Regions from separate parts of the Homo sapiens genome. Here all the other regions are linked to region 5. The links come from fine-mapping of genetic effects on gene expression. A gene starts in region 5. Each other region holds a variant in brackets. All regions are shown on one strand. Distances are from middle to middle. Region 1 has its middle 24 kb from the start of LITATS1. Region 2 has its middle 58 kb from the start of LITATS1. Region 3 has its middle 53 kb from the start of MIR4255. Region 4 has its middle 47 kb from the start of LITATS1. Region 5 holds the start of LITATS1 (lncRNA induced by TGF-beta and antagonizes TGF-beta signaling 1). Region 6 overlaps CDCA8 (cell division cycle associated 8). Region 7 has its middle 32 kb from the start of LITATS1.

Region 1 (4,066 bases), 24 kb after region 5:
TGCTAATTGAGGGAATGAGTTTCCTTGGCCTGAGAGTGGGCTAGGGCTGGGGCTGGGACCCAGGGCTTAGGCAATCCCAAGGGTCTGGAAAGGAAAACAGGTCAGGAGTAGAACCCTTTCCCAACACCATGGGCCAGCTCCCAGGCCCCATCTTGGGCGTGGGGGATTTGGAGTAGGATGACCATATAATTAGTCATCCAGATTAGGATACGTTTGGGAATGAAAGGGAGTGTCATTAAAAGTTACCCTAGGGCGGCCGGGCGCGGAGGCTCACGCCTGTAATCCCAGCACTTTGGGAGGCTGAGGCAGGTGGATCCAGAGGTCAGCAGTTCGAGACCAGCCTGGCCAACATAGTGAAACCCCATCTCTACTAAAAATACAAAAATTAGGCTGGTGGCTCACGCCTGTAATCCCTGCACTTTGGGAGGCCGAGGCGGGTGGATCACCTGAGGTCAGGAGTTTGAGACCAGCCTGGCCAACATGATGAAACCCCATCTCTACCAAAAAATTAGCCTGATGTGGTGGCGGGTGCCTGTAATCCCAGCTACTCGGGAGGCTGAGGCAGGAGAATCGCTTAAACCCAGGAGGCAGAGGTTGCAGTGAGCCAAGATGGTGCCACTGCACTCCAGCCTGGGTGACAAGAAAAAAAGCTGGCATCGTGGTGTGCACCTGTAGTCCCAGCTACTCAGGAGGCTGAGGCAGGAGAATCGCTTGAATCCGGGAGGCAGAGGTTGTGGTGAGCCAAGATCGTGCCACTGCACTCCAGCCTGGGCAACAGAGCGAGATTCCATCTCAAAAAAAAAAAAAAAAAAAGTTACCCTAGGGCAATAGCTGAGAACCCCCACGAGGTCATTCTGTGATGGAACCCCTGCCCTGCCCTCCCCCTCCGCAGCTTCAGACCCCCACACCCTCTCCTGCTGCTGTGTCTCCAACTGATGCTGAAAGTAAAAGCCGCCACTCACTGGCCGGTTACCTGCCCAGCACTCCACAGAGCTTGTTTTTTGTGACCTTCATGACAGCTGTGAGTCTCATTTTATTGATAGAGACACTGAGGCCCAGAAGAAACTGGCCCAAGAACACACAGGTGGTGAGTGGTAGAGCTGGGATTTGAACCCAGGGAGGCTGGCTTTCCTTGGAAGGATTATACGAACATTTTAATTGGTTTGGCCCACAAGAATTGAATTGCGAAGGAATGAGGCTTCCCAAGCCTTTCATCAGACCGTCCGCAGTCTCTTGTAGCTGTCTTCAGCTCAGGGACATCATTAAAAGGAACTTTGCAGCTTGGGCAACAAGGTGAAATCCTTTCTCTACTAAAAAAAATTTTAAAAATTAGCCAGGCGTGGTGGCGCGAGCCTGTGGTCCCAGCTACTACTTTGGAGGCTAAGGTGGGAGGATCACCTGAGTCTGGGAGGCAGAGGTTGAAGTGAGCCGGAATCGTGCCACTGCACTCCAGCCTAGGCGACAGAGAAAGAACCTGTCTCCACAAAAATATTTAAAAATTACCTGGGCGTGTTGGCACGTGCCTATAGTCTCAGCTACTCAGGAGGCTGA[A/T]GTGGGAGAATTGCTTGAGCCCAGGAGTTTGAGGCTGTAGTGAGCCATGACACTCCAGCCTGAGTGATAGAGGGAGACTCCGTCAAAACCAAACAAAACACAAAACAAAACAAAAACCCAAAAAGGCCGGAGAGGTGGCTCACACCTGTAATCCCAGCACTTTGGGAGGCTGAGGTGGGAGGATTGCTTGAGCCTGGGAGTTCTAGACCAGCCTGGGCAACATAACGAGACCTTGTCTCTACAAAAAAACAAAAAAAACTAGCTGGGCATGGTGGCATATGCCTGTGATCCCAGCTACTTGGGGAGGGGTGCTGAGGTGGGAGAATCCCTTGAGGCCAGGAGGTCGAGGTTGCAGTCAGCTTTGATTGTGCCACTGCACTCCGGCCTGGGTGACAGAGCTAAACCCTGCCTCCTAAAAAAAGGAAGTGGGTGGCGGGTATGGGGGAGGGGGATGTGTGGGCAAGGGAAGGAGGGAGGTGCACTCAGCAGGGGCAATGTGTAAGGAGTATGCAATGGAAGGGAGGCAGCCGGATGTCATTAGTCAAAGTTAACATTTGTTATGGACCTACTGCATACCGGGCTCTATTTAAAGTGTTTTCAAGGTACTATTCTATTTAATCTTCATACCAACCCTATAAGCTGGGTTGTTTTACAGATCATCACTACGAAGAGCAAAACAGGCCACTTGCCCACCTTGACAGAGCTGGTAAGTGGCAGAGCCAGGACCATCCAGACGGCTCAGCTTCCAAGCCAGCAAGCCTCATCGCCATGCAGTTTGTCCCCAGGGAGGAAGGATGCTTCTGGTCCCAGGGTCCAGGATGCTCTACCCTCCTTCCTCTAGGATATCCAGGGGGCCAGCTTTAGTGAGAGGAGAGTGCATGGTCCAGCCTTCTGGGGGCACCCAGAGTGTCCCCTTCCACTCCCAGCTTCCCACTTCTGCTCCACTGTCTCCCTGCAGGAGGCTCTGGGAAGGCAGAGATGGAGCTGTGGTCCCCACCGCCTTCTGTGGCAGCTCACTTTCATTCATTTTCTTTAAATGCTTCTCACTCTCTGTTTTTAAATCTAATTTTTCAGCTTCTTTTTCATCTTCATTCAAGTTGCTTTAATGAAACGAAAATGTGTCTGTTTCCCTCTGCTGGAGCTGCCCGGGGAATTTCAATATAAAACAAACAAGTTGGCTTTTAAAATTAAAATTTTATGGGTGGCATTTCCTCATTTAATGGGTGGCACAAAAGAGTGGAGTAAAACCAATTAACATGGGGTTGAGACTCGGTGTTCAGAAAAACTAAACAACAGGAGCGCGGTGCGCCAGGAGCCAGGAGCAGTTCCAGCAGAGGCTGGGGAGGTGCGCGGGTGAGGCAGTTGTGGAGGCTCCCCCCACTCCCTGGCAGCTGTGTGCACCCAGGTCGGGCACTAGCACATACAGGGATGCCAGCCTCAGCTCCCCACCCAGCTCTACCCCCAGGACCCATGCCCAGGGGTTGGTGTGCACATCTACCTTGCACATTCAGATGGCAGGCGATAGTGGGGGCTGAGAATGTGGAGGGGCGGGGGAGGCTGCCTTGGAGCCCTGGGGTCCTGGACACTGTTGTCTGGAGAAGCATTAGGAAGTAGCTAAGGCCTCTGCCAGGGCCAGCATTCATTCGGATAGTTATCCTCTGACGCAATCTGAGTCCTACTCACGAGGGCCTCATCTTCATCATGGCTATGCCCCAGGGCCCAGACCGCACCAGGAGTGTGGCAAGTGCTGCATAGATGCTGGATACCTGGATGAATGACTTCATTCCGGCAAACAATACTAATGGAAATCCTGCTCTGCTGTGACTCCCTCAGGGTGGGTGTCACCCGGCATAGGGTGTGTTTGGGGTAGAAATGGTGAAGATACCACAGGAGATCTGAGGAGCAGGGGCATGCCTGGGTGGCGCTGCAGGGAGAGAATGGCTCTGTGGAACTGGCAAGGGCAGAGTGAACAGGGCTGGAGAAGAGGCAGTCCGGGCAAGGGCGGGGTGGGGAGGGAGCTGAGAAATTGAGGTGGCTGAATCTGGCCTGGAAGGAAGTAGGGGTAAGAAGATGAGTCTGGAGAGACCAGTCGGGGCTGGCTTGTGAAGAGTGGCAGGTTGCTTTGACTTCATCTCAGGGCAATGGGGACTTGCTGCAGGCTCAGAGCAAGGTGATGTGATTCCAGGTGGCTTCAGGGACACTGACTCTGGAGGCTGGTGGGAGGGAAAGGAGAGTCCCGCCAGGTGTGCTGGCATCCCTGCAGGCTGAGCTGAGTACTTCAGGCTGGTTGGTTAAGGTGAACTGTGGCTGCTGGGGGTGGGGAGGGAAGGCAGGGATGATGGTGGGGCCTTTCTCTGAGCTGGAGAGCCTGGAGGAGGAGCAGGTTGGGAAAGTGGAGGGGTTCAGTTGTGGCAACATCAGCAGCCCCCCAATATAGACCCAACTGTGCTAAGGATATAGGAAGGAGATTTCAGACTGGCAGTGACAACTAGATCCCATAAATATAGGGAGGGAT
Region 2 (4,066 bases), 58 kb after region 5:
CACTGCAAACCTCCGCATCCTGGTTTCAACTGATTCTCCTGCCTCAGCCTCCTGAGTAGCTGGAATTACAGGCATGCGCTACCACGCCCGGCTAACTTTTGTATTTTTAATAGAGACAGGATTTCGCCATGTTGGCCAGGCTGGTCTCAAACTCCTGACCTCAAGTGATCTGTCCCCCTCGGCCTTCCCATGTGCTGGGAATTATAGGCGTGAGACACCGCACCCGACCCACTACTGTAGACTTTATAAACCCCGTACACTTAGGCTACACTAAATTCATAAACTTTTTTCTTTTCTTCAATAATAAAAATGTAACATTTTTACTCTTATCTTTTTTTGATTTGTAAAAACTTTTGGACTGTTGTAATAACACATAGCTTAAAACATAGACATATACAGCTATATGAAATTATTTTCTTTGTTTATATCCTTATTCTATATAAGATTTTTTTCTTTTCATATATACCTTTTGTAAAAACTGTCAATTTAGGCTTTTTTCTATTATAAAATTATTTCCTTTTCTTTTTTTTTCTTTTTAGACTTTTTTGTTAAAAATGAAGACACAAACACACACATTAGCCTAGGCCTACCTAGGGTCAGGATCATCAATATCACTGTCTTCCATCTCCACATCTTGTCCCACTGGAAGGTCTTCAGGGGCAATAGCATACATAGAGCTGTCATCTCTTCTGATAACAATGCCTTCTGGAATAGCTCCTGAAGGACCTGCCTAAGGCTGTTTTACAGTTAGTTTTTTTTTTTTTTTTTTCATAAGTAGCAGGAGTACACATTGAAATAACAATAAAAAGCATAGCATAGTAAATACATAAGTCAGTAACATTGTCGTTTATTTTCAAGTATTATGTACTTGTACATAATTGTATGTGCTGGACTTTTTTATTTATTTATTTTTTTTGAGACAGAGTTTCGCTCTTGCTGCCCAGGCTGGAGTGCAGTGGTGCGATCTCGGCTCACTGCAACCTTCGCTTTTGGGGTTCAAGCGATTCTTGTGCCTCAGCCTTGCAAGTAGCTGGGATTACAGGCATGTGCCACCATGCCTGGCTAATTTTGTATTTTTAATAGAGATGGGGTTTCACCATGTTGGCCAGGCTGGTCTCGAACTCCTGACCTCAAGTGATCTGCCCTCTTTGGCCTCCCAAAGTGCTGGGATTACAGGTGTGAGCCACCGCACCCCACCCATTGTGCTAGACTTTTACACGACTGTGGCAGCGCAGTAGGTTTGCTTACACCAGTCCTACCATAAAGGCATGAGTAACCTGTTGTGCTATGACATTTCCACTGCTTGATGTTATGACAGCTACCGTGTCACTAGTGATAGGACATTTTCAGGTCCATTATAGGCTTATGGGATCACTGTTTGTGTATGTGGTCCGTGGATGACCGAAGCGCTGTTATGTGACACAGGGCTGTATTTACATGGCTTGCTTCGCCTTCTGGCAGGTCACTCCTTAAATGTCACCTTATCAGGGGGAACTTTCTGACCTCCTTGTCTAAAACAGCAACCCACGCTCTGTTCTCTCTGCTTTATTTTTATTCATAGCTCTTACATATTTATATGTAGTGGTTTACAACTTTCTGGTCGGTCTCTGCCTGTAGACTGTATCACAAGAACAGGGACTATGTTTTGCTTATGGTGGAATCTCGAGCACCCAAAACAGCACCCAGGGTATGGGAGGCACCCAGGAAATATTGAGTCAAGGAAGGGATATCTCCATGACAGGCATAGGGTAAGTGCTCAATAAATGGCAACTGGGGTAAAGCCATGTGAGCAAATGAACAGACACCATCGCAAAGGAGAAGCTATGAGGAAGCTCCTCTGCAAAGGCTGCCTCTGCACAGGAAAGCCCAAGGCATCTGGTTTTCTGCCCTTCTCTCCTCGCTTGCCTCCTTTGCAATCGTTGAGAGAACTGTAAAGCTGCCAGTGATCTTGGACAAGGCTTCCTCCTACACCACGGGGTAGGTATGCCAGTCTTGGGGGTTGTAGAGTGGTAGTGCGGAGGTTTCTGAAGAATGAGGTTCCTGGCCCTGAGCAGCGAGGAGAAGCGGTCTTAGGGTCCTCCTGCCAGGCTTCTGGATTCTGTCTAAAGTGTCTCCAAAACTGGTGTGTGCTTGTGTGTGACTGTGGGGGAGTGTGATGAGTCACCATGCGGATGCTGGGCTGTGTGTGTATAAGTCTATATCCTGCGCTTGGTTCCTTGCACAAGTGTGTGGCTGTTTAGCGTGTGCTTGCTTATATGTGTTGGGTGAACAATCGTGTGTGTAACTGTACATGTGTGCTGGGTGCAGACCTGTGTAGAAGGTATGACAGGGTGTGAGGGTGCGTGGGTGAGTATGAGTGCCTTGAGGCACAGCTTAAGGGTGAGCTGTGGGAGTGTGTGCATGAAGTTCATGGAGAGGC[G/A]TGTGTCTCCGTGTGAGCAGGTTTGAACATGTTTTATGTGTGTATTCTAGTTGTGAGAGGGTGTTGACAACCAAGTTTGCACACATGGATTGTGTGTGAACTTACCTATGAATGAAATTCTGTGACTGATGGATGAAGGGTTTCTGGGGCCAGGGGTAGTTTGTCCATAAGGACTTGGCTACTGAAGACACCAGTTGTATCATTTTGCTTGTGCTTGTGTTTCTTTTCTTTCTTTTTTCTTTTTTCTTTCTGAGACAGAGTCTAGCTCTGTCCCCCAGGCTGGAGTGCAGTGGCGCGATCTCGGCTCACTGCAACCTCCACCTCCAGGGTCAAGTGATTCTCCTGCCTCAGCTTCTCAAGTAGCTGGGATTATAGGTGCATACCACCACACCCGGGTAATTTTTGTATTTTTACTAGAGACAGGGTTTCACCATGTTGTCCAGGCTGGTCTCAAACTGCCGACCTCAAGTGATCCACCTACCTTGGCCTCCCAAAGTCCTGGGATTACAGGCGTGAGCCACTGCGCCCGGCCTGTGCTTGTGTTTCAAGCTATCCTGACACAGGGCCATAGAAATAGGAGTGGATCTCTTGGGAATATCTCTGCTGATTGCCGTCATTTCATTAGAAACACAATTATTTCGTAAGGCTGGGCTAACGGTGTTGGAAATAGCCAAGTGCAGCGCTGGAGTGACAGGGACCACATCCCATTTGATACTAATTGGTTTGATGATGGTAATTGTTGTATTGCAGACAGTTGTGACTATCTCCTAATTTAATATAATCAATAAGGTAACAACAGCTCAATGCAAATGAGATGTGGGGACCCATGGGGCCATTTGTAAGTTATGTTCTTAATGCATTTTCCTAATTAGCTGTAGCAGATTCCCCCCTCCCCCACCTTCTCTGGAGTGTGAGAGAAGTGATCATCTGAGATGCCATGCTTCGCTTTCTCCAAACTTTCACTTTCAGAGAGGCTCAGGGAGAGCTCATCCTGGAGCTCCCAGGAACCCCAAAGGCTTTCTTAGGACCAGCTGAAATGGAGTCAGGGAGTCAACAGTTCAATAGGATACTTCCCTTCAGATTCATGACACCCCCCAGCTTGAACCTATGTAGTTTCTCTGCTTCTTCCATCTGATTGGAAGGTTCTCCAAGACAGGGGTTGTACTTCTTCCCATCAGACTGGCCACTTTGTCACTCAGGGATCCATGTCTGTTTCACTGAATAAAGGCTCCAAATGCCGCTGCTGGTGTTTTATTCATGACAAGCCCTCATGGATGTGCGTGTGTGCATGTATGTGTATTGCAGTGTAGCCCAGACAGTGTGTCAGGAATGCAGCATGCCAGCAGGGATGTAACTTAGGTAGTGGTTAAAAGAGACTCTGGGCCGGGCATGGTAGCCTACACCTGTAATCCCAGTGCTTTGGGAGGCCGAAGTGGGAGGATCATTTGAGCATAGCAGTTTGAGACCAGCCTGGGAAACATAATGGGACTCCATCTCTACAAAAAATTAAAAAGTTAGCTGGGCATGGTGGCATGCACCTGTGGTCCCAGCTACTCAGGCTGAGGTGGGCCTGGGAGGTTGAGGCTGTAGTAAGCCATGATTGCACCACTACACTTTGACCTGGGCAACAGAGTGAGACCCTGTCTA
Region 3 (4,066 bases), 260 kb after region 5:
GGTTGCTCAAATATGCCTCTCAAACACATTAAAATGCATTATTTTATGGTTCAGCCTGGAAGAGCAAGTTTTCTAGCGTGGCTGCTTCTTTTTGCTCCAAAACATCCTGCCATATCTACACCCCGGTTCCTCATCTTCTCTTCCCTGACTTGGAAGGGCTTTTCTTTCCAAGGTGATTTTTTGAAAAATTGTGATAAAATATACATAACATAAAATTTATCATTTTGACCATTTCTAAGTGTACAGTTTAGTGGCATTAAGTACATTCACATTGTTATGGAACTATCACCACCATCCCTTTCCAAAATTTTTTCATCTTTGCTAACTGAAACTTTATGCTCATTAAACAATTCTCCATTCCTCCTTCCCCTCCAGCCCCTGGTAACCACCACTCTACTTTCTGTTTCTCTGAATTTGACTGCTGTGGGTACTGCCTATGAGTGGAATTATACAGTATTTGTACTTTTGTGACTGGCTTACATAACTTAGCATAATGCCCCCAAAGTTTATTGATGTTATAACATGTGTCAAAATTTCCTTATTTTTAAATTGAAGTTCCTTATTAAAATTTTAAAACATTTTAAATTGTTTTTAATTGAAAAATAATTTTGTGTATTTATTGGGTTACAATGTGATTTTTATTTTTTTGGAGACTGAGTATCAAGCTTTCACTATGTTGCCCAGGCTGGTAGTGAACTCCTGGGCTCAAACGATCCTCTCATCTTAGCCTCCTGAGTAGCTGGGATTACAGTGGGCACCACCATGCCTGGCTACAGTGTGATGTTTTGATCTATGTATACATTATAGAGAGATCCAATCAAGCTAATTAACATATCCATCGCCTTATCAACTTATTTCTTTTTGTGCTGAGGACATTAGAAATCTATTATTTTTTGCAATTTTGAAATATATGATACATTTATTAACTGTGATCACCATGCAGTACAATAGATTACTAAAATTTATTCCTCTTTCTAACTGAAACTTTGTACCATTTGATCAACATCTTTCCTTTCCCCATCCCTCCCACCCTCCGACAGCCTCTGGTAACAACCTTTTAAACTCTCTGCTTTTATTAGATCAACTTTTTAAGATTCCACCTATAGGTGAAATCATACAGTATTTTTCTTCTTTGCCTGGCTTATTTCATTTAGTATAATGTCCTCCAGGTCCATTCATGTAGTCATGAATGACACAATTTTCTTCTTTTTAAAGGCTGTGTAGTATTCCATTGGGTATATATATACACCACATATTCTTTATCCATTTATCTGTTTATGGACCCTTAAGTTGCTGCCCTAGCTTGGCTATCCTGAATAATGCTGAAATAAACATGAAAGTGCAGACATCTCTTCAACATACTGATTTCAATTTCTTTGGACATATACTCAGAAGTTGGATTGCTGGATCATATGGTAATTCTATTTTTAGTTTTTTAAGGAACCTCCATACCATTTCCCCAAGTTGCTGTACTAATTTATATTCCCACCAATAGTGTGCAAGGGTTCTCTTTTCTCCATATTCTCTCCAAAACTTGTTGTCATTCATCTTTTTCATAATTGCCATTCTAATAGCTGTAAGATGATATCTCATTGTAGTTTTAATTTGCATTTTTGTGATGATTAGAGATGTTGGTATTTTTCATATGTCTGTTGGCCATTCATACGTCTTCTTTTGAGAAGTGTCTGTTCTTATCCTTTGCCCATTTTAAAATCAGGTTATTTGTTTTCTTACTATGGAGTTGTTTGAATTTCTTATATATTTTGGATATTAGCCGCTTATCAGATGTGTGGTTTGCAAATATTTTCTCCCAATTCATGGGTTGTCTCTTCACTCTGTAAATTGTTTCCCTTGCTGTGCAGAAGCTTTTTAGTTTGATGCAATCCCATTTCTCTATTTTTGCTTTTGTTGCCTAAGCTTTTGGAATCCTGTCCAAGACATCATTGCCTGGACAAATGTCATGAAGTTTTTCCGCTATGTTTTCTTTTAGTAGTCTTACAGTTTCAGGTCTTACTTTTAAGTCTTTAATCCATTTTTTTTTTTTTTTTTTTTTTTTAGATAAAGTCTTGCTCTGTCACCCAGGCTGTAGTGCAGTGGGACGATCTCAGCTCACTGCAACCTCTGCCTCCAGGGTTTAAACAATTCTCCTGCCTCAGCCTCTCCAGTAGCTGGGATTACAGGAAACTGTCACCATGCCCAGCTAATTTTTGTATAATTCATTTTGAATTGATTCTTTTTTTTTTTTTTTTTT[G/TG]AGCAATAAAGCTTTTTAATCACCTGGGTGCAGGCGGGCTGAGTCCAAAAAGAGTCAGCAAAGGGAGATAGGGGTAGGGCCATTTTATAGGAGTTGGGTAGGTAGTGGAAAATTACAGTCAAAGGGGTTGTTCTCCGGCAGGCAGGGGCGGGGGTCACGAGGTGCTCAGTGGGGGAGTGTCTGAGCCAGGAGAAGGAATTTCACAAGGTAATGTCATCAGTTAAGGCAGGAACTGGCCATTTTCACTTCTTTTGTGATTCTTCACTTGCTTCAGGCCATCTGCATGTATACATACAGGCTTGGGCTCAAAGGCCTGACAGGAACCTTTAAGAACATTTAGAAACTCTACTCCAAAAGTCTGTTTAAAAGTTGGTCGTCTGGAACTGGTTAGATTCTTAGCCCACAACAGCAAAGTCTTTAACCCATAAATCTGCAATATTTACAATATTATTTTAAGTACAGTATCTAACCAGGACCACATTGTTTATGCTCCAAGACAATGCCTCTCATCTTGTTTGCACGTCTCTGTTACTCCCAGGGCTGAATTCACTTTCTTTTATTTTAGTCATATGTATTTCCTTTAGATTCCTATTAATACTTCCATTTAAACACTTGACCACAGCATATGACAAAATTTTGTTTTCACATCTTCCTCTCACTTCTAGATGATGAACCCTCTAAGAGCAGGGTTTTCTTTTATTATTATTATTATACTTTAAGTTTTAGGGTACATGTGCACAATGTGCAGGTTAGTTACATATGTATACATGTGCCATGCTGGTGTGCTGCACCCATCAACTCGTCATTTAGCATTAGGTATATCTCCTAATGCTATCTCTCCCCTGTCCCCCCACCAGACCCCAGAGTGTGATTGTCAGGCCTCTGAGCCCAAGCCAAGCCATCACATCCCCTGTGACTTGTACATATACGCCCAGATGGCCTGAAGTAACTGAAGAATCACAAAAGAAGTGAAAAGGCCCTGCCCCACCTTAACTGATGACATTCCACCATTGTGATTTGTTCCTGCCCCACCTTAACTGAGTGATTAACCCTGTGAATTTCCTTCTGGCTCAGAAGCTCCCCCACTGAGCATCTTGTGACCCCCGCCCCTGCCCACCAGAGAACAACCCCCTTTGACTGTAATTTTCCATTACCTTCCCTAATCCTATAAAACAGCCCCACCCCTATCTCCCTTTGCTGACTCTTTTCAGACTCAGCCCACCTGCACCCAGGTGAAATAAATAGCCATGTTGCTCACACAAAGCCTGTTTGGTGGTCTTTTCACACGGACGCACATGAAAGTGATGTTCCCCTTCCTGTGTCCATGTGTTCTCATTGTTCAATTCCCATCTATGAGTGAGAACATGTGATGTTTGGCTTTTTGTCCTTGAGATAATTTACTGAGAATGATGATTTCCAATTTCATTCATGTCCCTACAAAGGACATGAACTCATCATTTTTTATGGCTGCATAGTATTCCATGGTGTATATGTGCCATATTTTCTTAATCCAGTCTATCATTGTTGGACATTTGGGTTGGTTCCAAGTCTTTGCTATTGTCAATAGTGCCGCAATAAACATACGTGTGCATGTGTCTTTATAGCAGCATGATTTATAGTCCTTTGGATATATACCAAGTAATGGGATGGCTGGGTCAAATGGTATTTCTAGTTCTAGATCCCTGAGGAATTGCCACACTGACTTCCACAATGGTTGAACTAGTTTACAGTCCCACCAACAGTGTAAAAGTGTTCCTATTTCTCCACATCCTCTCCAGCACCTGTTGTTTCCTGACTTTTTAATGATTGCTATTC
Region 4 (4,066 bases), 47 kb after region 5:
GGGGTGAGAGAGATGGGGGAGAGACAGAGAGGGAAGGGGGAGAGAGAGGAAAGGGGGAGAGAGAGAGGAAAGGGGGAGAAAGAGAGAGGAAAGGGGGAGAAAGAGAGAGGGAAGGGGGAGAGAGAGAGGAAAGGGGGAGAAAGAGGGATGGGGGAGAGAGAGAGGGAGAAGGGGAGAGGGAGAGAAAGAGCGGGAGAGAAGAGGGAAAGGGAGGGAGAGAGGGGGACAGAAGAGGGAGAGGGAGCGAGAGGGGGAGAGAGATAGGGAGGGAGAAGAGGAGATGCTAGATTCTTTTCAACAACTAGTTCTCAGGGGAACTAAGAGTGAGAACTCACTCACTCCCACAAGAATGGCACCAAGCCTCACGACCCAAACACCTCCCACCAGGTCCCACCTCCAACACTGGGGATGAAACTTGGTGGGGCCAAACAAACCCTATTTAAGCCATAGCAGCGTCTCACAGCATCACTGTGGAGTAATGGCCACCATAAGCAAGTCCTCCCCACCCTGAGCCCTGGCACGACACTGCCAATTCTTGAAACCCAGGGTGCAGTGGTGACGGCAGCTGCGTATGGTGGGAAGTAGGCTGTGAGCAAGTCACAGTGCCCCATCTGTAAAACAGAGATAAGAATACGATCTGCCTCTTGATGTCAAGATTAATGAGATAATAATGGTCATCTCTTAAAAGATTGTATCTACCAAGGGCTGTTCACAGAATAACACATCTAATCCTCTTGACAATCCTATGTGGTAGTTGCTATCATTACCCATTTTATAGAAGAGAAAGCTGAGGTATTGACTCATTCAAGTCTTAAATGGGGGATTGGATACAGGTGGTCTGGCCCCGAGCCTGGATTCTTAACCACTGCCCCTCTGGTTGAGGGAGGCAGAATCCTTAAACATAGTAAGTGCACAAGAAGTGTTAGCACCGGGCAAGGGAGAACATCCACTTTCAGCAGCACTCGCCTATGATGGATCAAAGCCGAGGGCTGTTGTCACCATGTGACATGTGCCAGATCCTTTCTGGACTGAACTGGAGACCCTGGACCTATGAGCAATGGGATTTGCTGTGTCCAGCTGTGTATAACCACTGGACTCATCCTCCATCCCGCCCTTGGTAGAGTGCTAGTTTTCATCTATGAGTAAAAGAACCACAATAAACTGTCTTCACCCTTTCTGGCATTAAAAAACCTTCAATTTTCCCCTTCAGTGAACTACTTGGTGAATATCTTCACTGGCATATGAACTTCTGGTACATTAAAATACTCAGGGTTTTTTTTTTTTGTTGTTGTTGTTTTTTGAGATGGAGTCTTGCTTTGTCACTCAGGCTGGAGTGCAGTGGCATGATCTCAGCTCACTGCAACCTCCACCTCCTGGGTTCAGGCGATTCTCCTGCCTCAGCCTCCCGAGCAGGTGGGATTACAAGTGCACACCACCACACCCGGCTAATTTTTGTATTTTTTAGTAGAGATGGGGGGTTCATCATTGTTGGCCAGGCTGGTCTCGAACTCCTGACCTCAAGTGATCTGCTTGCCTTGGCCTCCCAAAGTGCTGGGATTATAGGTGTGAGCCACTGCGCCCGGCCTGTTTGTTTGTTTTTGTTGTTGTTGTTTGTTTTTTAAAGAAATGGGGTCTCACTGTGTTTGCCCAGGCTGATGTGCAGTGGCACAACTGTAGCTCACTGTAACCTCGAACTCCTGGGCTCCAGAGATCCTCCTGCCTCAGCCTCCCAAGTAGATGGAACTATAGGCGCATACCACCACACGCAGCTCATTTTTAAAAACACTTTTTGTAGGGACAGGATGTTGCTATGTTGTCCAGGCTGGTCTTGAACTCCTGGCCTCAAGCAGTTCTTCTGCCTTGCCCTCCCGAAGCACTGGGATTACAGGTGTGCACCACCATGCCCAGCCTTTCAGATTTTGTTTTATTTTGTTATTATTTAATTTAGTTCTGCTGGTCTTTGTTTTGCTTCTTGACGTTTCTCAATAAATGTTAGCTATGGTATAGGAATCTCAATCTGCATACTTAGGTATGTAAGAAATACCATTTTTTTTGCCTCTTTCTTTTCTTTTCTTTCTTTCTTTCTGTCTTTCTTTCTTTCTTTCTTTCTTTCTTTCTTTCTTCCTTTCTCTCTCTCCCTTCCTTCCTTCTTTCCCTCCCTCCCTCTTTCTTTCTTTCCTTCCTTCCTTCCTTCCTTCTTTCTTTCTTTCTTTCTTTCTTTCTTTCTTTCTTTCTTTTCTTTCTTTCTTTCTTCTTTCCTTCTTTCTTTCTTTCTTTCTTTCTTTCTTTCTCTCTTTCTTTCTTTCTTTCTTTCTTTCTCTCTCTCTCTCTCTCTCTTTCTCTCTCTGTCTCTCTCCCTTCCGTCCTTCCTTCCCTCCCTCCCTCTCTCTCTTTCTTTCTTTCTTTCCTTCCCTCCTCTTTCTTTTTTTTTTTT[G/TG]ATGGAGTCTTGCTCTGTCACCCAGGCTGGAGTGCAGTGGTACGATCTCGGCTCACTTCAACCTCCGCCTCCTGGGTTCAAGCGATTCTCCTGCCTCAGCCTCCCGAGTGGCTGGGATTACAGGCATCCGCCACCAAGCCTGGCTAATTTTTTGTATTTTTAGTGGAGATGGAGTTTCACCATGTTGGCCAGGCTGGTCTGGAACTCCTGACCTTGTGATCCGCCCGCCTTGGCCTCCCAAAGTGCTGGGATTACAGGCGTGAGCCACCGCACCTGGCCTTTTTGCTCCTTTGAAACCAATTTTACGGTCCAATATTGAACCCCCATTTCTTCCTCTAGGAATGTGTGAAATTCAGGCTCAGATGCTCTTGGGGCTAAGTTGGAGATGTGCATGCGTGTGTACGTGTGTGTGTGTGTGTGTGTGTGTGTGTGTGTGAAAGAGGTGCAGGTGGGGGTTCCTGTAATAGAAGTAGTGTGAAGCTGGGAGCAGACAGGCACCTGAGGGTAGGGATTACTGAGGGTGCCCCCTTAGGAGGGTGGAGTAGATAGACAAGAAGCAGTGAGTTGGTGTAAGGCATGCCACTGAGTGGGAGCTGCTGAGTTCGTGATCCCGAGCCTCATGAACTGTCCCACTAAGGAAGGTGTGGCTTGGTGTTTCTCCTTGGGGATGTGTCTAGGACGTTTCTGCAGACTCATCCATAGGAAGCACACTGCCCTACTCTGACCCCCTCAGAGGACTCTATTTGGGTCTCTGTGAGGGCACTGATCACAGCCTCGGTTAGTGTCTTGGGCTGTGGTGTTCATTCTATTTAATTCAATTCAATTCAGTTTGATTCAATTCAATTCAACAGTGCTAGACTCTGTGCCAGACACTGAATTAGACTTAACTCCTGCCTTATGGGGCCTGTAGTTAAGTGGGGCTCTAGGTATGTAGACACAGGATTACCATGCACAGTACTGCCATGACAGTGGGGTACCAGGGGCATCGGGCAAGGGTTCCTAACTCAGGCTGTGGGTCAATGAAGTCAGTGAAGATGCCAGATAGTTGTGGTGCCTCAGCCAAGACCCAAGGGATGAAGGGGAGAAGGCTGCGGGTGACTAAGGTGTTTCAGGTATTTCAGGCAGGGATGGTGTGTAGTGGAGACTGGAGGCCAGAGAGTGTGGGGCCTGGAGATAACTTCTCTAGGTCACAGAAGGATCTGGAAGGTCATGGGGAGATGGTAAAGGAGGAAGTCAGAGGGTTGGGCTGGGGCCTTGGCATGCAAGGCTTTGGAGGCCTTACATTTAAGAGTTTGGGCTATACCTGGGGGCGATGCAGAGCCCTTGAGGGAGAGTGATACATGTGCAGTCTTTAAAGAGCAACTTGTGACTGGGCATGGTGGCTCATGCCTGTAATCCCAGCACTTTGGGAGGCCGAGGTGGGCAGATCACCTGAGGTCAGGAGTTTGAGACCAGCTTGGCCAACATGGCGAAACCTCATCTCTACCAAAAATACAAAAATTAACCAGGCGTGGTGGTACACGCCTGTAGTCCCAGCTACTGGGGAGACTGAGGCAGGAGGATCACTTGAACCCTGGAGGTGGAGGCTACAGTGAGCTGAGATTGCATCACTGTAATCCAGCCTGGGTGACA
Region 5 (4,066 bases):
GAGTGAGCAGCTGCCCACGGGCTGGTCCCCTTTACAGCCCTGCCTCACATTACAGGAGAGGAGTGGAGACACAGTGCTGGCCTCAGGGAGGGACCCACAGCATAAGGTAAGCTCTGCGGACAGAGGGACCTGGGCTGGAACCCTGCCTCTGTCACTTACCAGTAGCGCGACCCTAGCCTCATAAAAGGCTTTCCCTCCCTCTAGACCAGTCCCTAAGAAGGAAGTCACTTCTTCCAGCCCACCAGAGCTGCAGAGACAGTCATCCTTCCATGTGTCCTGGCCACAGGAGAGATGCGAACCTCATGTGTCCTGGCCACAGAAGTGACACTTACCTCATGGCCACGTTGCTCCCATCGATGACCACTGGTCTCAGGTCGCTGCCCTCCTTTTCCTCTTCTGGGAGTGGAGGCTCCAGGTTGGGAGCCTTAGGGGTGCCACCACCCCGCGGGACTAGAGGGAGCTGAGGGCAGGGGTCCGGTGAGGTCTGGCGCTCCCGCTCGGTGGCTGTCCCGTGTTTCACCAGCTCACCCAGCACCGTGTTGGTGTCTGCCTGGACGCCCAGCTTCTGCAGGACGCTGTGGATCTCCGTGGATGAATAGCCCAGCTTCCGGAAGAAGTCCACCTTCATCTGCAGTTCCAGGGCCGAGGCCTCCTCAGCGGCCAGCTCTTGACCCGGCCTTGGGGTGCCCTGACGGCTGTGGCTGTCCTCAAATTCCCACAGACTCATGGTGGGGCTGGCTTCCAGGACAGGCTTCTCTCCACAGGGGCCACTCATAGCTCAGACTCCTGGAAGGCCCCGCGCCACAGCTCCTACTGAACAACCAACAGGGTTAGGGACGGTGAATAGCGCTCTCTCCTAACCTCCCTCCCAAAACCACATCCAGCAGGATGAGGGATTGGTGGCACTACACACTGCATCGTGTTATTAGTTCAGGTTGTCCTCTCAAAAGCTCTCCCAGCTAGGCATTCCCATTCCCATTCTATAAAGGGAGAAACTGAGGCACAGACATTAAAAACGTGCTCAAGGTCATCCAGCTGTTAGCTGGTGGCTCGAAGATCGGAACTTAGTCTGAACTAAGACTGGAACTACCCCAGCTGTAAAGCCTCGAACCCCCACGCCAACCCAGGGGACCCAGAAGGCAGGGACGGGGCTCTCAGATGGAATCCTGGGGCTGGAAGTGCGTTGCGGGGCCCAAGGCTTCCCCACTGAGGCCACCACTTTCGCCCACCCGTCCGGCACTCAGAGCTCAGGCCCAGGCAGCGCAAGGCCCATGGCCGGACTCCCGGAGCCGGGGAGGGCAAGTTTCTGGGGTGACCCGTGGGGAGAAAAGTTGCTGGAAAACTTTGGTTGGCTGCCGGGAGCTGGTGACGCCGAGGCTGTCCCGGCCCGAGACCCGCGCTTGCTCGGCCCGCGATCCCGATCAGGAACCTGGTGCTCTTCCCCGGCTCTCCCAACTTGGGCAAAGTTGGAGGGGTCCTGAGGCCCGGCGGGCCGGGGAACAGGACCCCGACCCTTCCGTCCCCTCCCCTCTCCACCCCTCCCGTCCCCTCCCGTCCCCTCCCCTCGGCTCGGCTCGGACCCCGCCGGAGCGCTCCCTGCCGCTTCCCCGCCGAGGCCCGCACCCTCCCCGCCGCGCCTCACCCCGCCATGCGCCAGCGGCGGCCGGCGGCGTCTCCATGGGGCCGAGTCCTGGGGGTAAGGACGGCGGCGCCTTTATATGGGGCGGCGCGCGGGCAGGTGGTGGTGAGGCACTGACGCGGAAGCGGGCAAGGGGCGGGGCCGTCCCGGGAGACCGCCCCGGGGGCGGGGCTGCCTCGCCCCTTCCTGCTCCGCTCCTCGCGTCGCGGCCCCGCCCCCGCGGCCGCTGCGCGCCGGACGGGGCCCAAGCGGGGGTCGGAGCCTCAAGGCTGCGGCGGCGACGAGCTCCGAGCGGGACACTGAACGGCCCGTATGCGCAAGATAAGCACGGACTGAATCAGGTACACGCACCTGCCGGGGACGCACTGACCGAGGTGCGGACGGCGGTACCAGGACAGGTAAAGCCGCGAACACTCGGACCTAAGAACTTGACAGGTACACCCTGCCTGATGAAGCTACGTACGGCCAGGTGCGCATCGAGTGAATCAGGTACGCGGAGGTTGGTCCACGCACCTTGGAGGCAGGTCCATGGTTATAGACAGGTACATCCAGACAGGCACTTTTCAGATGGAGTCAGGCCCCCTCAAGACACACTGTGCTTAAAGCCGTCACACAGAGGTTGGCCACCCCCGGGGCCAGGTACACTTTTCCTGAAATCTGTACTTTACTAGGACCAAAAGGCAGGTTCAGTCAGCAGATGCACAATGACCGAGGCAGAAAACCAGGCAAAAGAGGGCCATTTACCCCAATCACCACATGAATACTGTCCACACAAGAATACTGTCACCCATACCGCAGAACTCACTGAGCGCCCCCACTGGAGGAGCACCCTTGCTCCATGAAGATGCTTTTAGTTTCCCAGGTCAGACCTGATCCCTCGCATGAGCACAGCACTTTACAGGCTTACACTCACGGGCTTACAGACAGAGGTCATTATGCTGATGTTACCCTTGAGAAATTCTGCAAAGGCTAAACTGCCCCAGCTGGAAAGACTCGAACCAGGATGGAGAGCTCCTATTCTAGTGCTCCTATTATTTGCCATTTTTGTGAACCACGAGTGACTGAGGGCAGAGGGGAGCCTGGCTTCCTATGTGTGTGTGTGTGTGTGCGTGCGTGTGTGTGAGTGAGAGAGAGAGAGAGAAAACACAGAGCCCACACGCTGGAGGACAGAGCCACATGCCACCAGTGCTTACTATGTGCCAGTCCTTTGTTACATTCTCTCTACCTCATCATAGGCATGTATCCTATAAGTGCTAGTGTTATAATAAATACTTGTTTATTGTAAAAGACACCATAGACACAACTGTACATGTACAGCTTAAAGAATAATAGTAATAATAAAAAAGCCATGTATCCATCACCTAACTTAAAAAATAGACCAGTGCCAGTACCTTGAGGCCCTCTGGGTGCCCCCATCACAGCCTCCTGCCCACATCCTGAAGAACTAGTTTCCTGAACTTTAATTGTGCTAGTCATTCTCTTGCTTTTTCTTGTAGTTTTACCACCTCTGTATGCATCCCTAAGTGGGATATTGTATAGTTTTGCTATTTTTTACTTTGTGTAAACGGAGTCATTCCATAATTATGTGACTTCCTTTTTCATACAGCATTATATTTTTAAAAATCCATTTTGATTGCCTGCATACCTGTAATTTATTTTACTACTGAATAGTGTCCCATTTTATGAATATACCACTGGTTACTTATTCAGTCACCTGCTGTTGGATGTTGTTTCTAGGATTTTTTTTCTATTACAAAGACTGTGCTTTGGATATTCTTGTATGTATCTTAATGAAATTGTACAGTGGAGGAAATGGATGTTCAGAGATTCAGAAAGGTGAAGTCACCTGCTCAGGCTCTGGGGGCTGGTGGAGCTGGAACTCATGTAGCTCTCTCCAAGGCAGTCCATCTCCCCATCCACACCTGCTTGTTCGGGAGGCCACCAAAGACCCCAGGGAGGCAGGCGTGTACGTCTCTATCTGGACCCTGAGGCTGTTCCTCTGGGCTTGCTTGCTCTTACCTAGCGGTGTTCCTGCTTTGTTGCCTGGTCATCTTTGAAGACCCCAAAGTGTCCCCTTCTCTGCTCCCCAGGCACAGCAGCTCCAGGGGCTTGGCAACCCAAGGAGAGAGGAAACACAAGGCCCCCTGCTGCATGCCAGCTCACATCCCATGCTGGGCACCTCACATGCTTGCTGTCACTCCAGCTGAGTGCGGTGCCGGCGGCACCCCTAACCTCACAACAGTCCCTTTTACAGATGAGAAGAGCTCAGTTATGTTAAGCATTTATTCGCTATAGCAACTACCTTTAAGATAGTAAAAACATTAAGTGATGTGTCCAGGTTAATAATGATAATGACAATACTAATCAATCATAGAGATAATGCCTCCCATTTATAGAGTGCTCACTGGGTGGCAGGCACCAGCTAGC
Region 6 (4,063 bases), 230 kb before region 5:
TAAGTGTTTCCTTGGTGTCAGGCTCTTTAGGCCTGATGACATATAGTCTGGGTTGCTTATTTGCACTGAGTAACCATTCTTCCAAATGCTGTCACTACCAGAAGATTCCTAGTCTATAAATTGTCAATACCCAATAACCTGGCTAAGTATGCCCCCAGGTTGTCTTCTTTTAGGCAGAACCCTCTTGCATCATTAGCTCTAGGTTGATCATTTTCAGCCTAGAGAGTTCCGGGAAGGCAGATCTGCCAGGGCCTCAGAAACTTTGGGAAGTGAGACTCATGATCACCGAATTACTCTTGCCCCGCTTTGTTCCTGGCCAAGAAAAGTCTACTATACTGGGAAATTACAGAGACCCTAGGTGTTGTCCTCCCAGACACAAATTTCTAGCTCATGGAATGAAGGTGTTGGGGGCGCTCTGCTGGGGGTTGAAGGTACCGATGCTCTGGATCTTGTAGTAAGCCCCTCTTTCAGATATCAGAATGAATCTGCCCAAAGCAAAGGTTTTCACATCTGAGAAAAGCAGATGTGCAAAGACTCCCACACAATTGCTGTCTCCCTAGTCCACAGAGCACAGCTTGGAGAGGACAGGCAGGATGAACAGTGATTACAAAAGAAAACACAAAACCAGAATTTATTGAAAGTAGGTACCAGCTCTGATTAGAACAATCAGCTCAAAGATACCATTACTCAGAACAATATATACAAAAATCTCAGGGAAAGGAGAATAAAAGAACTTAAAAGAATACAACTTGAACAGGACTGTTTTACTAAAATGGTCTTGTTGCAAAATAATAACAAATACCACAGAGAGCCCTACATGAGAAAGCCATGTGCCTTCAAGCCTGGGGATGAGGACTCTAGTTCTCAAATTCTTAGAACATAGCACATGATTCTCCAGGGCAGAGAGGCTGGCTGGAGAATGAGGACCTCACTGCTGACTCTGCTTAACAAAGTCCATGCCCCAGGCACAGGCACACATGGAATGAGGCCACCAAGCAAGTCACACCCACCCCTGTTCCCATGAACCCCATAAGAGAGAAGTGCTCTCTGAAGTCTACAGACTTGGCAGGGACCACTGGACCATGGATAGCTTAGAGACAGTTATTCTGTGGCCAATGACATAAAACCTCCAGAATCTGGGCCCTACAGTTCCCTTATCCAAATTTCCACTAACTAGGGAGGTAGAAGAGCAAGACATGGAAGTTGTCTCCAAACCAGTATTTGGTCTTCAGTAAACAGGGATAAACATAAAACACTGCTCCACAAGCAGACTTCAGAACTACTGGGCACAGCAGGTGAAAGATCCCTAAGTCCCACTGACCACCTCCCACAGGAGGAGGAGGAGGAGGAAGAGGAGGGCTGGTAGGGGGAGGTGTCATGAGTGCGAGAGGGTAGACGGACATGTTCCCTACTGAGGTCACTGCTGCCAACTGTCCTGCTCTGCTGATCTGTACAGTTCCCCCCACCTTCTGGACCTACCCTCTCATGGCCCAGAGCTCACTTATCTGAGCCTAAACCTCCCGGTCTCAAGCATAGAGAGCAGAAATGCCAGATGCAGAGGTTCTCTGGGTAGCGGTGGTGGAGGCAGTCTTCCTGAGAACACAGGGTTCTTCTT[C/T]GCCCCCTCAACTGCAGGCAGGGCAGGGTGAAGAGGATGTTGAGTTGCAGGAGGCAAAAGGCAGCAGCTCAGAGAGCAGGGAGGATTCAGCTGGGAGACTGATGGGAAGCTTCCATGGCATGGCCCCAGCAAGCAGTGACTGGGATCAGCTGGGATGGGAGGGTGAACAGACAGCTCTACCTAACTGGTGTGGGACTAGCACGTCTGAATTCCTGAATTCCCTTAGAGGAACATGGCTCCTTGCTCTGGAACTTCACACTCAAACAATAAGCCTGAAGGGAAGAAGTCTCTTCAGGGTCCCAGAAGTGCCCATTAAAAGTCCATCCTGTCAACTTTGGTGTCTCATTTGTGGGTCCGTATGCTGCTGCAGATTTGGGCGAGACGGTTCTAAAAAGAAAAGGAGAGAGGTCATTGTAGAAGATGTCACTTGGCAGGCTTGCCCCTTGGCCTCCCACAGTCAGCCTGAGCCCCTCCATTCTCTATCTGTATCACACATGAATTCACCTTTCTGAACCTGTTTCTCATCTGAACAAGGGAGTAAAATAACAACTCAAGTGAGACAGTAAAGGTATCATAGATTTGAGAAGAACATTGCAATAGATCTAGCTAGAGGATGACAGTCACAAGATTTGGGTGGCTAGGTGTGTGTGGGATCTCAGCACTGGGCCTATGTTCAGAAAGACAGGTTTAGGAAACCAGCCCCGCCTTGTCCCCTTCCTTGGATGTACCCTTCAGACCCCACAGAAGGATGAGGGTAAGGTTGCCATGTTTACACTAAGTGCTTCATCCACCACCCAAGATGATGGCTGACCAGACCAAGGAGGTTCATCCCTGGCGGAGCCATTACATTCTTCAGTTAAATTAAATTGATAATTTACTTTATTTTTAGAGCTGAGGTCTTTCTCTGTCACCCAGGCTGGAGTGCAGCAGCACGATCATGGGTCACTGCAGCCTTGAACTCATGGGCTCAAACAATTTCTCTCACCTGAGCCTCCTGAGCTGCAGGGATTACAGGTGTGTGCCACTGTGCCTGGCCCTCTTCAGAATTTAAACCAAGACAAGAAATTGAACAATTGGGCAATAGAGCAATAAAGTTGGGATTGGAGGTGTGGTTACTCAAAGCCACATGCAAAACAATGTTAAGTAAGCACAGAACCTGGAGCCTGTGGAGAAGGTTATCTGCTGAGGGAGGAATGAAGATGTGTGAGAGAAATGAGCACACAGGCCCCAGCTGATGGGCCCCACCACTCCAGAGGCTTGGCCGTTCAGCTCGCTCTTTGATTCTGTAAGATTCCTGATAACAAGCCCCGACCCTCATTCTTGAGCTACTCTAGGTTTCACTTTCTGGTGGCCAATAGTGACCTAACATACCCCTAGCACTAACTGCCTGAATGAGGCAGAATTTTGATTTTGCAGTGGAACTTCTGTGGCAGGCACCCTGGGATTGAACAAAACTCAACATCAACTGAGGAACAGAACTGCTGCTATCTAAGTAGGGTAAGAGTCAAAATCTCTTGGGGGAAGGAAGACAACACAAATTTAAGTAGAAAGTATTAGCCCAGGCCCAAAAGACAATCCTAAATAAAGGTAGCCCAAGAAAGCTACTGGAGGCATCCTATGTGTGGAGATGAATATGAGACTTACGGAGAGCTTCTTAATGTTTCCCAAGGCCTCTGGATCCAGCTGGGCAATACTGTGCCTCTGCAAGTCACTGGCCAATAATCGCAGGCTCTGAATAGAAAGGGGAGTGGGTTAAACTGGCCATGGCCCTTAGGGCCGGAACCCCTAGGTTCCCCTGATATCCTGCACTTAGTGGTGGGGAATGGCTGGGATGGAGAAGTGGCAAGACAGGCAGGAAGGATATTAGCTCTAAGGAGACAATGACTTCATCAGCACTATCACTAGGGTGGAGGCTGGATTACCTGGGCACAAAAGGCACGCACATCATCTAAGAAATGCCCTGCAGAGTATGTCTGAAACAAACCGTCCTCCCCTCACAGGGGCTGAGGTCAGCAACTCGCTCCATGCAGCCCAGAGACACTGAGCTCAGCTTGCTTCAGAATCCCTTAAGTTATACAAAGCTGAAGGCACAGCTCATGGTCCGGGTTCTAGACTAAGCGCATACCTCGGTGGTGCCCTCCTCTGCACCACCCTTTAACATCTCTATTATTGCGCATATCACAGGTACCATGATTGCAAACCCATCTTGACCACTGAGCTGCTTTCTAAGGGCAGGCCCCATGTCTACTTCTTGGGCCTACTACAATCGGATGGGCAAATGTTAGTTGATGAACAGATGGAGGCCGGGTGTGGTGGCTTGCACCTGTAATCCCAGCACCTTGGGAGGCTGAGGTGTGTGGATCACCTGAGGTCAGGAGTTTGAGACCAGCTTGACCAATATGGTGAAACACCATCTCTACTAAAAATACAAAAATTAGCCGGGTGTGG
Region 7 (4,066 bases), 32 kb after region 5:
CTCCTGGGTTCAAGCGATTCTCCTGCCTCAGCCTCCTGAGTAGCTGGGATTACAGGTGCGCACCACCATGCCTGGCTAATTTTTGTATTTTTAGTAGAGATGGGGTTTCACCATGCTGGTCAGGCTGGTCTCGATCTCCTGACCTCATGATCCACCCGTCTTGGCCTCCCAAAGCGCTGGGATTACAGGCGTGAGCCACTGTGCCCCAGCCAGCTTTTTTCTATAATGGCAATAATCAGTTTTAAAATATTGTAGCAGGTTATCTGAATAAGAGGGTCTTTTTTTTTTTTCCGACCTAATGAAGCTCAGTTGGGGATAGTTGTTTTCTAGAAATCATGTTAATTTTAGGGGTGTAGACACATGTGAACTTGAAGCACACCCCTTATTTTATTTCATTTTTAAGTTTTCTGTTTTTGTTTTTGTTTTGAGACAGCCTTGCTCTGTCACCCAGCATGGAATGCAGTGGTGAGATCATAGCTCTCTGCAGCCTCAAGCTTCTGGGTTCAAATGATCCTTCCACCTTGCCCTCCCAACTAGCTGGGACTACAGGCATGACCCACTACACCTGACTAATTTATTTATTTAGTTTTGTAGAGATGGTGGTCTCACCATATTGCCCAGGCTGATCTCAAACTCCTGGTCTCATGGGATCTTCCCACCTTGGCCTCCCAAGGTGCTGAAATTACAGGCATGAGCCACGGTACCCAACCTCTTCTCCTCTCATTTTAATAAAATCACTGGGACAGGTCCTTTATAGGAATAAGGCAAACACCACCTGCTTGTCTGGGAAGAGCCCTGGAAGAACTGTAAGTGGTGGAATGCAAACTGAGATGTTAAATATTCTGTTTCATAATGACTGCGTTTCAAGCAGAGTTTGCTATGGATGTGACCTGGTTTTATGGCCTGGGTGGGAGCAGAGAAGAACAGGGATTTTCAGGTGTGGGGAGGCCTGAGGAAGCTTTCATTGGTGGCTGTGCTCTCCCATACAATAGGGACCCTGAGAATGGGTGTACAGTCCAGGGTCCCAAGGGAACACTGTGTAGCTGTCAGTGTAGCCGTGTAGGAACCCTGACTGCAGCAAATGAAGACAGAAGGAGGAAAGACAGTGGTGGGGGTGGGGGAGCAGGGAGACAGAGAGAGAGACAGACAGACAGACAGACAGACACACAGAAACAGAGACAGACATACATACACACACAGAGACAGAGAAAGAGACAGAGAGAGAAAAAGAGGCAGACAGAAAGAGACAGGCAGAGAGAGACACACACACAGAGAGACAGAGAGACAGACAGACACACACACACACACAGAGACAGACAGACACACACAGAGACAGAGAGAGACAGAAAAAGACAGAGACAGACACAGAGAGACACAGAGACAGAGACACCGACAAACACAGAGAGACAGACAGACACGGAGAAAGAGAGAGAGAGACAGAGAGAGACAGAGAAAGAGACAGACAGAAATAGAAACACAGAGAGAGGGAGAGACAGAGAGAGACAGACAGAGACAGACACAGAGAAAGAGAGAGAGATAGGGAGAGAGAGAAAGACTGACAGACAGGGAGAGACACACACACACAGAGACAGAGAGAGGGAGAGTGGAGGGAGAGAGAGAGAGAGAGGGAGAGTGGAGGGAGAGAGAGAGACAGAGAGAGGGAGAGTGGAGGGAGAGAGAGAGACGGAGAGTGGAGGGAGAGAGAGAGACAGAGAGAGAGAGAGTGGAGGGAGAGAGAGAGACAGAGAGAGGGAGAGTGGAGGGAGAGAGAGAGAGAGAGACAGAGAGAGGGAGAGCGGAGGGGATGCAAGAGAAGCCGGCAGGAGAAGGAGCGGTGAGACAGTGAGTTGAGAAGTGGCCCCAGGACTGTGTGTGGAACATACAAGCACCTGTCTGGATCCCCCAGATGCCAAAGTATAATTCTCAAAATATTAAAACCATAATTCTCATGCAATACACAGTGAGCACCATCAAAATATTATTTAGCTCAATGAGAGAATCTTTAAACAAGGTGGTTCAAAGAAGAATATGAGAAACTCGCATGAAAAATGATGATGGAATAAGATACTAAATTAGATATGAAATTGGTTGATAGCCTATAGGACATTAAAACCATAACCTTTTGGGATTATTTTCTCTAGTGGATGGAAATCACTTGCCCCTTACCAGTTTTCTACAAGTAAACATCTAATTTTACAGAGCCTGGGCCCTAAGCAATAGTCAAATAGACTAGTCAAATAGAATGTCGAACATTCTCGTTACTCTAGACAGGCTTGTTGGCCAATGCTTGGGGCGTGGAGAGGAATTAAACCA[C/T]ATTTTTGCCAGTTTTAGAATCTCATGGAGAAATAGACCATGTTTGGTTTGGGTTTTGGGGGTTCAAAGTCATTTTAAATGGACTCTGAGAAGAAATATGAGCCACACTTGGATCCCAACATGGTGAGGTGGGGCACAGAGAAGCAGCGTCACGTGGTACCCGTGGCCTGGGGACAACTTGTGGGGGTGAGGAGATGGCCTGTACCCACCGCTATGCCGGGCTTCGAAGCACCTCTCCTTAGACTTCAGAGTCGCATCAAGCTTTTCGTTTTCTGGAGGGTTTTTTTTTCTTTTAAAACTTTTATTTGTATTTATTTATTTATCTATTTACTTTTTGAGACAGGGTCTCACCCTGTCACCCAGGCTGGAGTGCAGAGGCATGATCACGGCTCACTGCAGCCTCGATCTCCTGGGCGCAGGTGATCCTCCCACCTCAGCCCCCTCAGTAGATGGGACTATAGGAAGGCACCACCACACATTTTTCTATTTTTATTAGAGATGGGGTTTCACTATGTTGCCCAGACTAGTGCTTTTTTTTAAAATTAAAAATTTAAAATTGTGTTAAAATATACAAAACAAAATCGATCGTTTCAATATTATTTTATTTATTTATTTAGACAGAGTCTCGCTCTGTTGCCTGGGCTGCAGCAGCCTTGAACTCCTGGGCTCAAGTGATCCTCCCACCTCAGCCTCCTGAATACCTGAGACTACAGTTGTGCACCACCACACCCAGCTAATTTTTTGATTTTTTTTATTTTTGATGGAGATGGGGTTATGTTGCAGTGTTCTCAAGCTGGTCTCAAACTCCCAGGCTCAAGTGATCCTCCTGCTTTGGCCTCCCAAAGTTCTGGGATTACAGGCATAAGCCACTGCATCCAGCCTACAATGCATGTTAAAAGGTTAAGCACAGGAGGAAACAGTAAAACAGGGTGAGGGGGATTGGGAGCGTGTGACGGGGTATTGGGTCAGAGTTGCATCATTGGGAAGACATTCGATAGTCTTGAAGGAGGTGAATTGTATTGGGAGGAAGGGTTCCAGATTGGTGAGAGTACATCAGTTATGTCTGAGGTCAGAGTGAGTGAGGGGGATGGGTAGTGGGAGAAGAACATGACCTTGGAGGCCATTTTAAGAACTTAGGTTTAACTCCAAGTGAGATGGGAAACCATGGTAGGATTTTGAGCATAGAAATGACATGATCTGACTTTTGTTTTATTTTTATTTATTTATTTATTTTTTGAGACAGAGTCTCGCTCTGTCACCCAGGCTGGAGTGCAGTGGCACAATCTCGGCTCACTGCAACCTCCGCCTCCTGGGTTCAAGCAATTATCCTGCCTCAGCCTCCTGAGTAGCTGGGACTACAGGCACGCACCACCACGCCTGGCTAATTTTGTATTTTTAATAGAGACTGGGTTTCACCATCTTGGCCAGGCTGGTCTTGAATTCCTGACCTCAGGTGATCCACCCGCCTTGGCCTCCCAAGGTGTTGGAATTACAGGCATGAGCCACTGCACCCGGCCTGACTTATGTTTTAAAGGATTCACATTGGTCTGTGTGTTGAGAATAAATTGAAGAGGGGTTGGAGAGGCAGGGACAGAAACGGGGAGACCAGTTAGAAGGCTGCCACAGTAATCCTGGGTCACAGGTACTGTGGTTCCAGTGGCTGGTGGATCATTACAGCACAGAGCCTGGCCCCTACCCAGCCTCCTCAGCAAATCTTCTACCTCTACCCCAGCCGTCATCTGCTTGAGGGGAA

Evidence for each region.
Region 1: its variant is fine-mapped to the expression of LITATS1 in substantia nigra (GTEx, PIP 0.99). The same link has a PIP of 0.9 or more in whole blood.
Region 2: its variant is fine-mapped to the expression of LITATS1 in thyroid (GTEx, PIP above 0.99). The same link has a PIP of 0.9 or more in unexposed skin.
Region 3: its variant is fine-mapped to the expression of LITATS1 in whole blood (INTERVAL, PIP 0.98).
Region 4: its variant is fine-mapped to the expression of LITATS1 in whole blood (INTERVAL, PIP 0.90).
Region 6: its variant is fine-mapped to the expression of LITATS1 in subcutaneous fat (GTEx, PIP above 0.99).
Region 7: its variant is fine-mapped to the expression of LITATS1 in whole blood (TOPMed, PIP above 0.99).

The regions. Positions count from the first base shown.
Region 1 is chr1:37,448,086-37,452,151 of GRCh38, reverse strand. No RefSeq gene overlaps it. Among named protein-coding and RNA genes, the nearest start is that of LITATS1, 24 kb to the left of the region's middle. RefSeq lists enhancers at 1-192, 1-794. The variant A/T (reference allele first, on the strand shown) is at 1,552.
Region 2 is chr1:37,414,074-37,418,139 of GRCh38, reverse strand. No RefSeq gene overlaps it. Among named protein-coding and RNA genes, the nearest start is that of LITATS1, 58 kb to the left of the region's middle. The variant G/A (reference allele first, on the strand shown) is at 2,420.
Region 3 is chr1:37,212,874-37,216,939 of GRCh38, reverse strand. No RefSeq gene overlaps it. Among named protein-coding and RNA genes, the nearest start is that of MIR4255, 53 kb to the right of the region's middle. RefSeq lists an enhancer at 3,081-3,636. The variant G/TG (reference allele first, on the strand shown) is at 2,252.
Region 4 is chr1:37,425,697-37,429,762 of GRCh38, reverse strand. No RefSeq gene overlaps it. Among named protein-coding and RNA genes, the nearest start is that of LITATS1, 47 kb to the left of the region's middle. The variant G/TG (reference allele first, on the strand shown) is at 2,435.
Region 5 is chr1:37,472,206-37,476,271 of GRCh38, reverse strand. It overlaps LITATS1 (lncRNA induced by TGF-beta and antagonizes TGF-beta signaling 1), which reads left to right and starts at 1,829. Exons shown (of 3, transcript NR_038842.1): 1 at 1,829-2,128. ZC3H12A (zinc finger CCCH-type containing 12A) reads right to left here and starts at 1,692. Exons shown (of 6, transcript NM_025079.3): 1 at 1,643-1,692; 2 at 333-813. The coding sequence starts at 775. RefSeq lists an enhancer at 748-847 and silencers at 1,498-1,957, 2,418-2,517.
Region 6 is chr1:37,706,261-37,710,323 of GRCh38, reverse strand. CDCA8 (cell division cycle associated 8) reads right to left here. Exons shown (of 10, transcript NM_001256875.2): 9 at 3,260-3,346; 10 at 605-2,002. The coding sequence ends at 1,958. Among named protein-coding and RNA genes, the nearest start is that of CDCA8, 16 kb to the right of the region's middle. The variant C/T (reference allele first, on the strand shown) is at 1,616.
Region 7 is chr1:37,440,080-37,444,145 of GRCh38, reverse strand. No RefSeq gene overlaps it. Among named protein-coding and RNA genes, the nearest start is that of LITATS1, 32 kb to the left of the region's middle. The variant C/T (reference allele first, on the strand shown) is at 2,314.